Regions from separate parts of the Homo sapiens genome. Here region 1 is linked to region 2. A link means that fine-mapping ties the variant in region 2 to the expression of a gene that starts in the linked region. Tissue or cell type: thyroid. Region 2 holds a variant in brackets; the other region holds the start of a gene. All regions are shown on one strand. Distances are between the middles of the regions.

Evidence for each region. PIP is the estimated chance that this variant, and not a neighbour inherited with it, causes the effect.
Region 1: LRRC36 starts here. The variant in region 2 is fine-mapped to the expression of LRRC36 in thyroid (GTEx, PIP 0.96).

Annotation. Positions count from the first base shown.
Region 1 is chr16:67,323,365-67,331,466 of GRCh38, reverse strand. It overlaps LRRC36 (leucine rich repeat containing 36), which reads right to left and starts at 4,652. Exons shown (of 14, transcript NM_018296.6): 1 at 4,535-4,652. The coding sequence starts at 4,604. KCTD19 (potassium channel tetramerization domain containing 19) reads left to right here and starts at 4,726. Exons shown (of 16, transcript NM_001100915.3): 1 at 4,726-4,762. The coding sequence starts at 4,760. RefSeq lists a silencer at 4,610-4,759 and an enhancer at 6,515-6,594.
Region 2 is chr16:66,933,791-66,941,886 of GRCh38, reverse strand. CIAO2B (cytosolic iron-sulfur assembly component 2B) reads left to right here and starts at 7,485. Exons shown (of 5, transcript NM_016062.4): 1 at 7,485-7,664; 2 at 7,821-7,900. The coding sequence starts at 7,523. CES2 (carboxylesterase 2) reads right to left here and starts at 6,371. Exons shown (of 12, transcript NM_001365405.1): 1 at 6,176-6,371; 2 at 3,646-3,850; 3 at 2,529-2,670; 4 at 1,532-1,665; 5 at 1,192-1,450; 6 at 665-763; 7 at 241-381; 8 at 39-119. The coding sequence starts at 6,251. RefSeq lists enhancers at 1-770, 830-1,329, 6,149-6,761, 7,600-7,799, 7,830-7,879. The variant A/G (reference allele first, on the strand shown) is at 3,244.

The sequences.
Region 1 (8,102 bases), 390 kb before region 2:
TGCAGCCTAAAACTCCTGGGGTCAGAGGATCCTTCCACTTCAGCCTCCTGAGTAGCTGGGACTACAGGTACACACCACCAACACCCAGTTAATTTTTAAATTTTTTGTAGAGACAGGATCTTGCTGTGTTGCCCAGGCTGGTCTCAAATACCTGGCCTCATCCTCCTCCCTGGCCTTCCAAAGTGTGTAAGCCGCCATGCCCAGCTTTCATGTTGAAACGTAATTGCCAATGTAACAGCACTGCGAGGTGGGGCCTCTAAGAGGTGATTAGGTCAACGGTGGCTTCATGCTGTTATCATGGAGTTAGTTATCACGGGAGTTAGCTATCCTAATAAAGGAATTAGTTCAGTCTTCTCTCTCTCTCTCTCTCTCTCTCTCTCTCTCTCTCTCTCTCTCTTTCTCTCTCACATCTCACACATGCACCTTCTGCCCTTCCACCATGGAATGACCCTCACCAGATGTTGGCACCATGCTCTTGGACTTCTCAGCCTCCAGAACCATGAGCCAAATCAACTTCTGTTCTTTATAAATTACCTAGTCTATGGTATTCTGTTATGACAAGAGAAAAGGGACTAAGACATTTATTTATTTATTTATTTATTTAGACTGAGTCTCAGTCTTTCGTCCAGGCTGAAGTGCAGTGGTGCGATCTCAGTTCACTGCAACCTCTGCTTCCCAGGCTCAAGTGATTCTCCTGCCTCAGCCTCCTGAGTAGCTGGGATTATAGGCACCTGCCACCATGCCGGGCTAATTTTTTTTGTATTTTTAGTACAGATGAGGTTTCACCATGTTGGACAGACTGGTCTTGAACTCCTGACCTCAGGTGATCCATCCTCCTTGGCCTCCCAAAATGCTGGGATTACAGGCGTGAACGACCATGCCCAGCCCTAAGACATATATTTAAATCGATGAGTTTATAATGATACTGAGAAAGCAAAACAGTCCTCACTGGTCACCTTTGGAGAATGCTAAGAAAATAACTCATCATTCTGAAAGCTGGCATATAAGGTGAAAACAAATCAAGCTTTTATGCTGCCTTTCCTATACAAACTGTACCTCAGGATAAGCAAACAGTTGATGTGAGGAAATTTCTCTTTATAGAAGTATTACAGTTAATGAAGAAAAATGAAAGAAATAGACAATTACCATTTTGCAATCCCTAATGAATTAACTTAGGTAATCATATTCAGTGGCTGATATCACGAAAAGAAAGAACACTAGGCACCATATACTTCCTAACATAAACATACACCATTACCTATGAAATCGTCTTGTGAAAAAAAAAAAATCCAACCTGAATCTGATTAAGCCTCATCTAACTACCAATTCATAGGAAGTACAGGGAACACGGGAAAATGTTTAACATCTTAGGAATGCAATGAGCAAAGTTCAGGTTATAGTAAACTCTTTCAAAGCCAGTTTCTTCAAAAACAATTGAAAATGCGAGGGAAAAAAAATGGGGAGCCTACAGATCAAATAAGACTTAAGACATACATCAACCAATTGCAATATATGGACCATATACGGATTCTTATTTTATTTTATTTTTTAGATGGAGACTTGCTCTGCCACCCAAGCTGGAGTGCAGTGACGCGATCTCAGCTCACTACAACCTCCGTCTCCCGGGTTCAAGCGATTCTCCTGCCTCAGCCTCCCAAGTAGTTGGGATTACAGGTGTGAGCCACCATGTCCAGCTAATTTTTGTATTTTTAATAGAGATGGGGTTTCACCATGTTGGCCTGGCTGGTCTTGAACTCCTGGCCTCAAGTGATCCACCCACCTTGGCCTCCCAAAGTGCTGGGATTACAGGCATGAGCCAACGCACCCGGCCATGGATTCTAATTTTAAAAAATTATAGGACAACTGGGGAAATAAGAACACTAGTTAGATATTTCATGATATCAAGAAATCACTGTTCACTTTAGGAGGCTGAGTCACTTGAGGTCAGGAGTTCAAGACTAGCCTGGCTAGCATGGTGAAACCCCGTCTCTACTAAAAATACAAAAAAATTAGCCAGGCATGGTGGCACATGCCTGAAATCCCAGCTACTCAGGAAGCTGAGGCAGGAGAATTGCTTGAACCCTGGAGGCAGAGGTTGCAGTGAGCTGAGATCATGCCACTGCACTCCAGCCTGGGCAACAGAGCCAGACTCCATCTCAAAAACAAAACAAAACCAAAAAAAGAAATTACTGTTAAATTTTTTAGGTTGCATATGTGACTTTTTTTTAAAGTAATCTTAGCTTTTAAAAATACATACTGGCCAGGTGCTGTGGCTTGCACTTATAATCCCAACTCTTAGGGAGGCTGAGGTGGGTGGATCACTTGAGGTCAGGAGTTCAAGACCAGCTTGGCCAACATGGCAAAACCCTGTCACTACTGAAAATACAAAATTAGCCGGGCGTGGTGGCGGGTGCCTGTAGTCCCAGCTACTTGGGAGGCTGAGGCAGAAGAATCGCTTGAAATGCGGAGGTGGAGATTACAGTGAGCCGAGATCACGCCACTGCCCTAGAGCCTGGGTGACAGAGCAAAACTCTATCTGAAAAATAATAAAAACAATAAATAAATAAAATACTACTGAAATATTTATGGAGGAAATCACATACTTGGAATTTGCTTCAAAATAGTCAGTGTAGGGGGTTGGAGGTGGGTGGAGGATAGGTGAGGTATACGTGAAAGAAGCTTGGCCATGAATTGATGATAACTGTTGAGGTAGGCTAATAGAGTTCATTATTCTGTTATCTCTACTCTTGTATATATTTGAAAATTGCCATAATATAAAATTATAAAATAAGTGATAAATGCTTATATATGTAGAGAATATTTCTGGAAAACTATCCAAGATACTGGTAACAGTAATTGCCTTTAGGAAGGGGAACTAGGCCTATGAGACGGGGATGGGGGAGTAAAGACTTTCTTCTCACTGTACAATTTTTATTTTATTTATTTATTTTTTCGAGACGGAGTCTCACTCTGTCACCCAGGCTGGAGTGCAGTGGCGCGATCTCGGCTCACTGCAAGCTCCGCCTCCTGGGTTCACGCCATTCTCCTGCCTCAGCCTCCCGAGTAGCTGGGACTACAGGCGCCCGCCACCATGCTCCGCTAATTTTTTTTGTATTTTTAGTAGAGACGGGGTTTCACTGTGTTAGCCAGGATGGTCTCGATCTCCTGACTCGTGATCCGCCCGCCTCGGCCTCCCAGAGTGCTGGGATTACAGTCGTGAGCCACCGCGCCTGGCCCTCACTGTACAATTATTATATTACCCACAGAATAAATTAATTGAATTATTTTAACAGTCAAAATGAGTAAATATTACATATTTCCCCCCTCTACCAAATTAATCATTAGACTACCGACATGCTCTAGTATATCCTTCCTGTTCTGTTCTTGACTGCACATCATACGCTTCAGCTACCATCTATTTCTGCAGTCTCTTTTACAGCTAAAATTTTCAGCAAAAGTTCTTACTTTCACTGTCTCTTCCCCTCAAATATCATTTCCCTTTTTCATCCCACTCCAATCTGGTTTCCCTCCTCCCCACCCTCCCAAAACTCCCTCTGTCAAGGTCACCAGTAAGTTCCATGTTGCTAAATCTAACAGACACTCTGCATTTAAGTTGCTCAGCCTGTCAATAGCATTTGGCACAGTTGGCCATTGCTTGCTCGATACACTACCCCTTCTCAAATTCCAAGATACCACATTCTTCCTCTATACAACCTCTAAACACTGAAATATTCCAAGGTTGAGTCTTAAGCTTTCTTTCACTTCTCCATCGACATTCTCTCCTTAGCTGAGTTCATCCACTCCCGTAGCTTTAAATACCACCTATTGCTAATGTCTCCAAAATTTTCATCTCTAACCCTGACCTCTCCTCTGAGGTCCAGACCCATATATCCAACTGCCTACTAGGTACCTTACACTTGGATGTCTAATAGACATTTTATTATTTATTTATTTTATTTATTATTATTATTTTTGAGATGGAGTCTCGCTCTGTCGCCCAGGCTGCAGTGCAGTGGTGCGATCTCGGCTAACTGCAACCTCCGCCTCCCGGGTTCAAGCGATTCTCCTGCCTCAGCCTCCCGAGTAGCTGGGATTATAGACTTGAACCACCACGCCGGGCTAATTTTTGTATTTTAGTAGAGACGGGGTTTCACCATGTTGGCCACGCTCAGGTGATCCACCCGCCTCCGCCTCCCAAAGTGCTGGGATTACAGCGGTCAGCCACCGCCCCCCGCAGTTCTGTCACCTGCGGCAGGGTCCCCTGTTAACCTTGTTTCTCCTTCCCTACTTCACACTCCCCTCTTCTCTCTCAATTCCTCGGGCTCTGCCCCACACCCTCCCGTTACTTCAGTTCCTCCACCTCCACCTCCCTCTAACCTTCTGCCTCAAGTTATCCCCCCGCCCCCCAGCCTCAGGTACCGCTTCTCTGTGGTTCCCTCGCCTCTATCTCAGGTTCCCCGCCTTCCACTTCAGTTTTCTTTCCACAGCTTCTGACCCTACGTTCCCAGTCCACACCCTCCCGGCCAGACCCTACCCGGCTGCTCCAGCGTCAGCGCCCCCAGGCGGCGAATGCCTTCCTCGTCCAGCTCCCATTGCTCCGCCATCCCCGCCCGCCGCTCACCTGCCACCGCCCGCGAGACCACCCGGCGCACGCCAGGCCCCGCCCACTGCCCCGCCCCCCGCGCGCGCGCCGCCGCGACCCCGGGAACCGTTATTGGCCGGGTCACAAGCCCGCCCGCCCGCTGCTGGAGCCGCGACCATGGTACGGAGCCCGCTCTGGCGGGGGCGCCAAAAGCACCAAAGCGGCGAATGGGGGCCGCTGTGGCCAAGGATTGGGGCTAAGTGGTTCGAGACCTGGCTCTGGGGCATGGGAGAGAGCGAGGGGCCCCCAGCCGGGAAGGATTTGGGGGGCTGGCTCTGAGGAGTTAGAATAACGCTCTGTCTTGAGGGATGAAGTGTTCTGGCTCTGAGGATGTGGGGGACTCCGGTTCTGAGGGCTGGGCGTGTGCCCCTTTGACGGGGTGGTCTTCATATCTCAGCGCTGGGGGATGCTGACTTTGGGGCAAGGCGAGGGTGTGTGTGAAGGGGAGATCCAAATCTGAAGGATTGGAGCGTGGGGACAGAACTCTAAGGCATGATGGGGAGCTCCAGATCTGAAAGGTTGGGAATCCTGGCTCTGAGGAGTTGGGGTCCTGTCTTTAGAGCATGAGGAAGTTCTAGCTCTAGAAATTGACTTGGACGGGCTGGGCGCGGTGTCTCACGCCTGTAATCCCAGCACTTTGGGAGCCCGAGGTGGGCGGATCACCTGAGGTCAAGAGTTCAAGACCAGCCTGGCCAACATGGTGAAACCCCATCTCTACTAAAAATACAAAAATTAGCCGGGTGTGGTGGCACGGCCTGTAGTCCCAGCTACTCGGGAGGCTGAGGCAGGAGAATCGCTTGAACCCGGGAGGTGGAGGTTGCAGTGAACCGAGATTGCACCACTGCACTCCAGCCTGGGCGACCTGAGTGACAGAGCCAGACCTTGTCTCAAAAAAAAAAAAAAAAAAAAGGTAAGAAATTTACTTGGACGGAGCTTCTTCGGGGGAGAAGGATCAGCGTGGGAAAGAGAGAAGCTCTTTGTAATGGGGTGGGGATGACTGCTTTAGGGCTACCCCGTTTCCTGAAGTCAGTCCGGCAAGAAGCCTTTTGTCTTTCAAGCACCACAGGTTCCCCTAAGCTTGCCTGTGACTGAGGGCTGTCGCCAGGCTGCGATAGCTCTGCACTAACCAGCCCCTGAGTAGTCTTTGGGAAAGAACAGCCGCATCCCTAACCCCTACCCTCACTCCAGCAGGCACTTAAGAGCCCACCTGTGGATGGGACATGTATGTAAGAAGGAGCCAGGACCCTCTTGTCACACCCTATCCTTAACAAGAAAAGAGGGTGGGCTGGGCGTGGTGGCTCACGTCTGTAATCCCAGCACTTTGGGAGGCCGAAGCATGTGGATCACGAGGTCAGGAGATCGAGACCATCCTGGCTAACACAGTGAAACCCCATCTCTACTAAAAATACAAAAATAAAACAAAATAAAATAAAATAAAATAAAATAAAGCCGGGCGTGGTGGCGGGCGCCTGTAGTCCCAGCTACTTGAGGAGGCTGGAGGCTGAGGCAGGAGAATGGCGTAAACCCGGGAGGTGGAGCTTGCAGTGAGCCAAAATCGTGCCACTGCACTCCAGCCTGGGCTAGAGAGCGAGACTCCGTCTCAAAAAAAAAAAAAAAGAAAAAAAGAAAAAAAGAAAAAAAAGAAAGAAAGAAAAGAGGAACTGAGACCAGAACTGGGGCTCACCTTCGAGAAGTAGGTTTTCTTTGGCATCCAACATCTGCACACTCTGAGCACCCCCATTGAGCTCTCAGCCACCTTTAAGGAGAACAGAAAGCAGAATCAAGGGTCCTTCCTTGCATATTTATGCTTTCTGGTCTATGTGAGACCCTTAGTCACTCCATTTGTTACATTCAGCCTTTGCCTGAACATGAACTTGTAGAAAGGCTTTTAGAAGGGCTGGGACTTAGAATTCTAGGTTAGCTCATTAGATTGACTTTTCTGGCTCTGCTTCTGTCAGTTATGCAATCATTTCACAATTTGTCATATTTCTCTTATTACCCCCTTTAACTCTTCTAGTCTCAAATGTGGCATATATAATTGCTCTTCTTTATGTCTGAATATTGCTGTGGGAGAGATGGACCCCATCCCATTCTTTCTTGCATGCATTTATTTTCCTTCCTCAGCTGTCAGAATGGGAAATGCAGGTTCTTTCTGGAGCAGGGAGCTTTTCCTTTCTTAAGTAATCACCTCTTACTTTAACACTGTTTTTCCCCCACGAACGTCTTAATGCAATTTTATAAACACAGAAAGATTGAAAGAATTGTACAGTGAGCACCATATATCCACCACCTGCATTCTACAATCAACATTTTGCTCATATTTGTTTTATCACATGTCCATCTAGCAATCCTATCTGTCCATCAATCTGTCTTTTTTAAATTCATCTCAAAATAAATTGCAGATATCAGTACATTGCAGTCCAATCACTTCAGCCTGCATAATTTTTAATTAGAATTCGATATTGTTTTATGGTTCTTTTTAGGTAAAATTCTATATACTATTTACTACCCTTTAAAAAATATTTTTACAAGGGTAGTGCCCTTTATTTTAAAATTTGATATGGATGGTTTGTATGTTTGATGGCTCTCTACTTTTCCATCGTATTGATAAACTAGGTCATCTTGAAACAAAGAAGACAATTCACTTATAAATAGATGACCTTAAACTTTTTTTTCAACAACCTCTTGTCCAACAGATGTACAGATGACCTTAAACTTTTTTTTCAACAACCTCTTGTCCAACAGATATACAGATGACCTTAAACTTTTAACAATGAGCTGAGGAAGGTTAGTGATCTTTGCTGCCTTTGTATATATGAAAAGGTATCTATAGCATTCATCCTCCAGTAATGTAATGTCTCTGCAGGTAAGATCCCAAGAGAGTTCTGCATGCGCTCCATGGAATGGACAGTACCTCATCTTTTTTTTTTTTTGTAGATCTATTGAGATATAATTCACATACCATACAATTCACACATTTTAATGTGTACAATTCAGTGAGTTTTAGTATGTTCAGAGTTGTGCAACTATCATCACAATCAATTTTAGAACATTTTCACCATCCCCAAAAGAAATCCCATACTCATTAGTAGTCACACCCCATCTCCCCATAGCCTCTCCAGCCCTAGGCAACCACTAATCTATTTTCTATCTCTAGAAATTTGCCTTGTCCACACATTGCATGTGGATGGAATCATATGTGATTTTTTGTTTGGCTTCTTTCCCTTGGCATAATGTTTCGAATTTCATCCATGTTGTTATCATGTATCAGTACTTCATTCCTTTTTATTTTTTATTTTTTTAGAGACGTGCCTCACTCTGACGCCCAGGCTGGAGTGCAATGGCACGATCACAGCTCACTGCAGCCTCAAACTCCTGGGCTCAAGTGAATCTCCTGCCTCAGCCTTCCAAAGTGCTGGGATTACAAGCACAAGCCACCATGTTCATCCCATTCCTTCGT
Region 2 (8,096 bases):
AGCCCGTCTCCATTGGCGAGGGACCCCAGGAGCCTTACCAGCAGCGTTAACATTTTCTGCAGAGCAGCCTGGGAGGCCTCTCTGTCCATTTCCTTCTGGGTATCATAGATCCTCATGACCTGGATGGCCAGGAGAGAGTCTGTAGCTGGGGATGGGATGAGCCTGGAGCTATGAAGCCCTGAACACCCCCCACTACCAGATGGGCTCCCCAGGCACTTGTGGGCTTGGGTTGGGGCTCACCTTGGGGATGAGCCAGCCGAATTCATTGTTGTTGACACCAACAATGCTAGGGACAGGCTGAAAGTCGGCAGAGGCCAGCAGCTCCTGGGGGTGCCTGGGCAGGAAGACCCCATCCACCACTCCGGGGATCATCTTGAAAGGCTGAGGGGAAATGTAAGGTCAGGGAACAAGGTCAGGTCCCAGACATCTTCCGATGCCCTCTGAGTACCTTCCACTCCTTCCCAGTTTATCCCTGGATGCTCATACCCACCCCAGGAGATTACTGTTTGGCTCAGCATGCACCGACCTTCAGTCCCGACCCAGGGCTATGACACTCAGGCATGCAGATGAGGTAATGTGCCCAGGGAATATGACGGCCGTGCAGGCCTGCCAGCCCCATGCCTATTGCACCCCTTCCTCTACACCCACATCCATTTAGACCAACCTTGTTAATTGCAAGAATCTCCTCTTTACTCTTGCCCCGCAGGCAGCCCACCAGGGCCTCAGAGTCAACTTGGTCACAGGCAGACAGGTTGGCCACCACCTGTAAAGGGACCAGGCAGGGGCTGGCTCATCCTTCCAGGTAGAGGAGAGGAGTTTGCCCAAGGCCCTGGCCAAGAACAGGGGTACCCCAAATCTCAGAGGGTACTTCGTATGAGTTCCTGCAGTTCTGACACTGTTCCAACTCAGAAGTCCCAGACACAGGGGCCATCCCATCCGCCTAGATGATTCTCCTCATGGTGGGGATCCCTAGGGTGACAACTTTGCACAGGAGCCACAGAACAAGCTCGGCCTCTGCAATGGCAGAAGGATGTGAATTCTGACCCTGGAGCCCCCCAGCAATTCCACGGTAGGCAGCAGCTCCTGGAGCATGCTCCCGATGGCCCTTGTCATCCCCGTTTAACAGACAGAGGCTCTGAGGGATATGAGGGGAGGGAGCAGGCCTAGGCCTCTTCAGCTGAGGGCACTCACCGTGGAGATGACATCAGCTGAGCTGGCAATGAGGCCGGGCAGGAGGGCCACGCCACTCTCCATGATGGCTCCGTGGAAGAGTCCTTGGGATATGGGGGACACAACAAGCGAAGACACACTCGTGCCACCCGCAGACTCGCCAAAAATGGTGACACGGTCAGGGTTGCCTCCAAAGTGGGCGATATTCTGCTGGACCCAGCGTAGTGCAGCCACTTGGTCCAGGTAGCCCCAGTTGCCGGTTGCGTGCTTGTCTCCAGTGCTGAGAAGTAGCAGGGACAGGGATCACAGGGCTGTCCTGGCCCCGCTCAGCCCGGGTTGCCCAGCCCAGCCCTAGTCTCACCTGAAGAAGCCCAGGACACCCAGGCGGTACTGGATGATGACCACCACCACGTTCTCCAAGGCAGCCAGCATGGAACCATCATACAAGGAAGCCATGCCAAAAACAAGCGCACCACCGTGGATCCACACCATCACCTGGGGAAATCAAGGCAGCTACCATGATGCTCCCACCCAGCCCAAACCCCACCAGGGCCACTACCTAGACCAACCAGTGCTTTGCCTCTGTCTACCTCCCCATTAGATCTCCAGCACAAATTCATTACATGGGCAAATGGTTAGGCACCCAAGATCTATCAGGAAGACCAGGCCTCCCAATCTTTGCAATCGAACCCCCTGTATCAAAGCCTGGGTTCATTAACCCCAGATAATTCACCAAAGTGGAAAGAAAAGGGGTGTCTCCCTGATGGCTCCACATGAACATTAACCAAAAATGTCCTTAGCCTGAACCACATAGTGAGACCCCGTTTCAACAGAAAATGTTTTAAAAATGAGCCAGGCATGGTGGAATAGGCCAGTAGTCCCAGCTACTCGGGAGGCTAATCTGAGAGGATCATCCCGGATTTCGAGGTTACAGAGAGGTATGTTCATGCCACTGCATTTTAGCCTGGGCAACAGAGCATGATGCCATCTCTAAGAAAAAAAGTTTTTGTGTGTGCCCATTCTATAGGCCCAACAGATTATCCATGGCTGGGGTTCTTGGTCACCTCAAGGTGCAGCCCTTTGGCACTTAAGTGGATCTCCTGGCATGAGTTGGCTGAGTGAGTCCTGGGTCCAGCCCAGAGCCACAGCCTTTGACCTCTGGGAGCAGCCAGAACTCTGTGACCCCATGTCCAGGGGCCAGCTGCCCAGTCTGGGTAAGGAGCATTTCTTGGACCTGACAGTGAGAAGCTTCTCAGCATGGTCCACTCTGAAGCAGGGCCTGAGCTAATATTGTCCTTTTCAGCTTCTTGCAGAAGAACTGTCCTCCAACCCCCAGTGAACTGTGGCCTGACACCCACCGGCAGGTTAGAGCCTTCATGGCTATGGGCCGGCGTGTAGATGCTGAGGTACAGGCAGTCCTCAGACATGGAGTCGGAAGGGAAGGTCATGTTGAACTGGCTAAGAAACTCTGACTCCACTGCGGTGAGGTCCTGTAGACACCTGGTAACCAGGGCAAATAATCAGTCCAGGGGCCAGGCTGTGGCCAAAACCAGACCCTGGGTTCAGAGGTGCTCCCAGCCACCCTCAGACCCTTCCCACAATATCCTGCTCACACATGATCCCTCTCAAAAATCCCTTCCCACCAAGTTACAGGCCACAGGCTCTGGGGAAGCTGGGATGCAGCTTGGACTTCCAGGGAGGCCTCGAGGTTACTGAGGACCTTGGGTATCATTCCTCGCACTGCCGGAAACCTTGACTCTTAGGGGTTTCTATGAGAACCATTGGCTGCATGTGTTGACATTCACCACTATATTCCTGTAACCCGTAAGGCCTGGGACAGGGGAGTAGCCCACATATGTGTGCTACATGAGTGAATGGATGTTAATTTCTCATGAGAAGGGCAGTGGGATGTCTCTCATCCCAAGTCTAAACTCTCAAAAACTCATCATTCCTACATGGCCTCCAGTTGGAAACATATACATATACATATACATGTCTCTTGGCCAATGGCTCCTGGTCCTGTCAGTGGACACAGTGCCTGTGGAGAGTGCAGGTCCCCAGAAAGCTACCACT[A/G]CTGTTCTCTTCAGGTATTTGCAACATCTGCCACTAGAGTTAGGGGCTCCTACAAGGTTCATAGAGCCAACCCGAACCTTTCCCAGAGACACCTGCCACTGGTGGCAGAGAAAGCTTGGCATAACCAGAATCTGGGGAGATACGTGTGTCTGCCCCTCCCTTCGGCACCTGGAGCCAATGTCTTCTGAATGCCAAGCCCTGATCCAGGAGTCTGAGAAGTTATTCTGCCCTCCTGAGCCTCAGCATGCTCATTGGAAAAATGCACGTGGGAATCCACGAAACTCAGAAGGAAAACTGGCTGTGGGGGTTTAGATGAAATGATAACTGCAGCCTAGCTGAGCTCAGAGCACCCCCACCCCTGCCCCAGGGCCTGGAGTTCCCTGGACCCCTTGGAGAGCTTACATGGCCGGATGGGTGGTTCCATCCCTCACACCACTCCAAGATTCAGGGGGCTCAGGGGGTGCAAATCGCAGCGGACCTAGAGGTGGCTTGGCAAATGGAATTCCCAGGAAGGTTTGGACCCCGGCATTGGCGCCCTTCACATGGACAAGACTCCCCAGCACCTGCCCCGTGTGTGTGGTCCGGATGGGACTGGCTGAGTCCTGGCCTGTGGGCAGAGAGACAGACATCACGGTTGGGTTTGACCAATCGACTGCCCTCCCAACTGTTGGTATTGCTGCTTCCTTGCCATCCTCATCTTAGCTCAAGGGACTCTGATCTGTAAACATGGGCTTTACAAACTTCCTGCCTGTAACACTCCCTTCCCGCTCTGGCTTCCTGGGCCTGTCTCCATCCCACCAGGCTGAGGCTCCTTGGGGCCAGGCATCATCATTCAGCCCTAGGACCTTCAAACAAAGGGTCACATGCCCTTGATGGGACTAGAGTGTCCTTCAACTGTGTGCCAGGTCATGTGACAGTAGGATGATGGTGGGAATTGGGCAGGCAAGTTTCTTGTCCTCAGGGATGTCATGTCCAAAGTGGCAAGAAATCATGTAAAGAAAGCATCATCCAAACCATGAGTGATGTTGGTGAAAAGAGGTGCAAGAGAAAAGTATGGCTGTGGCTGGGATATAAAAAGCACAGTGACTGGCCTGGGGACCATAGTGGGACTCTGTCTCTGCAAAAAAATCAGGAAATAAATTGGCGGGGTGTGGTGGTGCATGCCTGTAGTCCCAGCTGTAGAAAAGCCTGGCTCCAGAAAGTGGGTGAGTTTATGACTGTTTAGATGAAAATCAAGGACAAGTGCACACATCTATTCTTGTGTAAACTGCTGGGCACTGTGTGTACTGCGGTGTCAACAAGCAGTTTCCAGTGTGGGCCATGGGGACTTTGATGGCCCCTGAGGAGAAGCCAGGACTGGTTGGGTAAAAAGAGGATGGCACACATCACCTGTACCCTCCTATGGCTTGTCAATTATTTTTTCTGAATGTGGGTCCAACCCAAAATTTTGTATACATATATATTTGTCAGACAAGGTCGCCATCTGTTGCCCAGGCTGGAATGCAGTAATATGATAACAGCTCACTGCAGCCTCCACCTCCTGGGCTTGAGATCCTCCCGCCACAGCCTCCTGAGTAGCTTGGAGTACAGCTGTCTGCCACCATGCTTGACTTTTTTTTTTTTTTTTTTTGGTAGAGACAAGTCTTGTTGCCCAAGCTGGTCTCTAACTCCTAGCCTCAAGTGATCCTCCCATCTCTGCCTCTCAAAGTGCTGGGATAACAGGTGTGAGCCACTGTGCCTGGCCCAAAATATTTTAAAAGGTAGCCATCTGTGAGGCCAGGCAGATCTTCCTGCTGGGCTCCTGGTGAACTCTAGAATGTGGTCAAGGGCAGGCACGGGAGGAAGCCCTGCAGCAGTGCACCATGGGGCGGGGGGAGTATGGACTCCACCTGCGCAAATTAAATTGGGGAAGGGTTGGAAGAGACAGATCATACACTTAGGAGAGTTTCGGGTGAGAGGACCAAAGGCCGAAACACTCCCCCAGCTTCTGATAAGGGCCTGGAGAAGCCTGGCAGGCACACAGAGCCTTCACCTTTGCCCTGGAAGCCAAGTTGTGCCCTTGCCCAGGATGAGGTAAATGGCATGAGGGACACCACGAGCTCTTTGGTTCTTGTTTCTGGAGACAGATTTTTGCTTTTTCACCCAGGCTGGAGTGCAGTAGTGGGATGAAGGCTCACTGCAGCCTCAACCTCCCCTACTAAAGTGATCTCCCACCTCAGCCTCCCAAGTAGCTGGGACTACAGGTCACAGACCACCACAGCCCACTAATTTCTTTCAATTTTTTGTACACTCCGAGTCTCACTATGTTGTCCAGGCTGGCCTCCAACTCCTGGGCACAAGCGATACTCTCCCTTGGCCTTCTAAAGTGGTGGGATTAAAGGAGTGAGCCAATCGCACCCAGCCACTGTGGCCTCTTAGATCTGCTTTAGGATTTGGCGCCTGGGGGCTTCTGTTCCCCAAGGACCACTATCCTTGTCTGAGGCCCCTTTGGAGGGCTCAGGGCATCCCCCCTGGCCAAGGACGCCACACACTGAGAGCCAGATGCTGCCAGAAGCTATTACTGTTATTACCGGCCGGCAGCACCCGCTACAGCCACAATCATAAGAGGGAAATGGACTGAATCCCCACACCCCAATCCCTCACCCACTCCGACCCCAGGCTGCCTACCCGGCCTGGCATGTCCCGGCGCTCCTGGGGCCCCTGTACTCCGCTGGTTCCTTGCCGTGGTGTCCCCCAGCCCGACCCTTTCTGTGCTTCTAGGAGCCCACCTTGGGCGGCGGGGAGGCGTTGCGTGGGGCTCACGAGTTCCACGCTGTCATCTCCACCAGCTCCTACCTCCCAGGCGCCTGCCCTCCCGCACTGTCAGGTTCTGCCTCCGCAGCATTTGGCAGATCTGAGCCCGGTCCCTGTCGCCCCTCCGAGGGAGCCTCACCCTGGCCCCGGACAAGAAGCAGCAGAAGCCCACAGGCCACCGCGCTCAGCCGCGCACGAAGTCTGTGCAGCCGCATGGTCGGCTCGCTGGTCTCGGTTCGCTGCCGGCGGACACGCTGCTGTTCACCCAGAGGCTGCCCCGGGTCTGTCCAGCAGTGGATCAGTGCCTTGCCCAGCCTTGGAGTTTGGACTGGGCAGGGAGTCAGCGGGGTGCGCTGGCTTGGGCCGGGAAAGGTGGGTGTGGTAGGAGAGCGGGACTGAGCAGTCATAGGTGGGTGGGGATCTAGTGGTAGGCAGGCCCGGGCACGGCCACTTTCCTTTGCCCGGGCTCCTTTGGCATCCTCGGAAGGGGCTGTGCCATTCCTGCAGCCCTTCCGCGATCCAGGGAATCCTCTCTTCAAACCTGTCCTTGTCCACAGGCCCGATGAGCGCGCTGGGGGATCGATAGGAGGGGGCAATAAACTAGAATTGGAGACCCCAGGAGGGCTTCTCTGAGGATGTGCACGTTCAGGATCCCCCAGATGGAGAAATGGGAAGGAACTTGATCGGGGTGAAGGAACCGCTTGAGCAAAGGCAGGAAGGAGTGTCGGCGCCCTTCATTCTGGAAGTTCCTCCTTGCTTTCAGGACTCAGTTTCCTGGGTTCCCCTTCACGGCCCCTCATCTCCTTACAGTCCAGGGTCTGAGGGTCTCCGCGGTCCCCTCCCTACTCAGTCACGCCATTCTTTTGAAACGTACACGTGACCGCGGCACTTCTTAAGGAGCGCCCCCCTTTTCCTCGGTGGCTTTCAGTTTCCTCACCTCCCGCGGAGACCACGGCCATGGTCATTTATCCACTTGACAAACATTTCACGAGCCCCTGCCGGTCCAAGCTGTGGGGACGCCGTACTCCCGGGCCTATGGTGCAGCAGGGGAGGCAGGCGCGTCACCGGGAGGTCCCGAGACACTAGGATCCCTGCCAGGCCAGAGGCGACCAACCGTCCTGGATACGGGAGCTCCCGGCCAGCCTGACTTCCAGGAGGAAGCGGTGTGGGGATTACCTCCGACCGCCTTTAGTGCCCCCTGAGACCTGGTTCTGGCCTCTACGTTTCAGCCCGCTACTGGCTCGCACGACCCAGCGCCGCCGTGGTCCCTTCTCAGCGCCTTCTGCTCCAGCGACCATCATGTTCCCGGGTCCGAGCAGCCAGGGCCGCGGTCACCGCTTCTCTCGCACCTCAGGCCGAGAACCCACAACGCGGCGTGTCCCTCGCGCGACTCCGTCGCCACGCCACGCCCCCTTCCCGTTCTCCGGAAGTGCGCGGGTTGGAGCGGAAGCGCACGCCTGCTAGGATCAGCGGTGGTGGTTCCGCGATGGTAGGCGGCGGCGGGGTCGGCGGCGGCCTCCTGGAGAATGCCAACCCCCTCATCTACCAGCGCTCTGGGGAGCGGCCTGTGACGGCAGGCGAGGAGGACGAGCAGGTTCCCGACAGCATCGACGCACGCGAGATCTTCGATATCCGCCGCTGCTGGGCGCGGGCGGGTTCCGGGGGCTTGCGGTGGGGGGAGCAGTGATATCGAGCAGCTGGTGGAGCCGCATCCCAGCAGGGCGTTCCTGGCAGAGGGTTCTAAGTGGGCAAGGGCGCAGAGTCCCTTTTCCTTCACTTCCCACATCTGATTCGCTCCATCAATGACCCGGAGCATCCACTGACGCTAGAGGAGTTGAACGTAGTAGAGCAGGTGCGGGTTCAGGTGAGTCACTTCCGAGGGGAGCGAGTTGTTCCAGAGAGTCAGAAAGGTTTCTGTGCAGCAGGAGCTGGCGTGCTCTATGCTCACGAACACCGAAGGGTATCTTTGGGGAGGGAGATTGTTGTGCCTATTTTATGGGTGTTGAAACTGAGGCCCATAGAAGTTGGATGATTTGCCCAAAACAACAAACTAAGAAGAG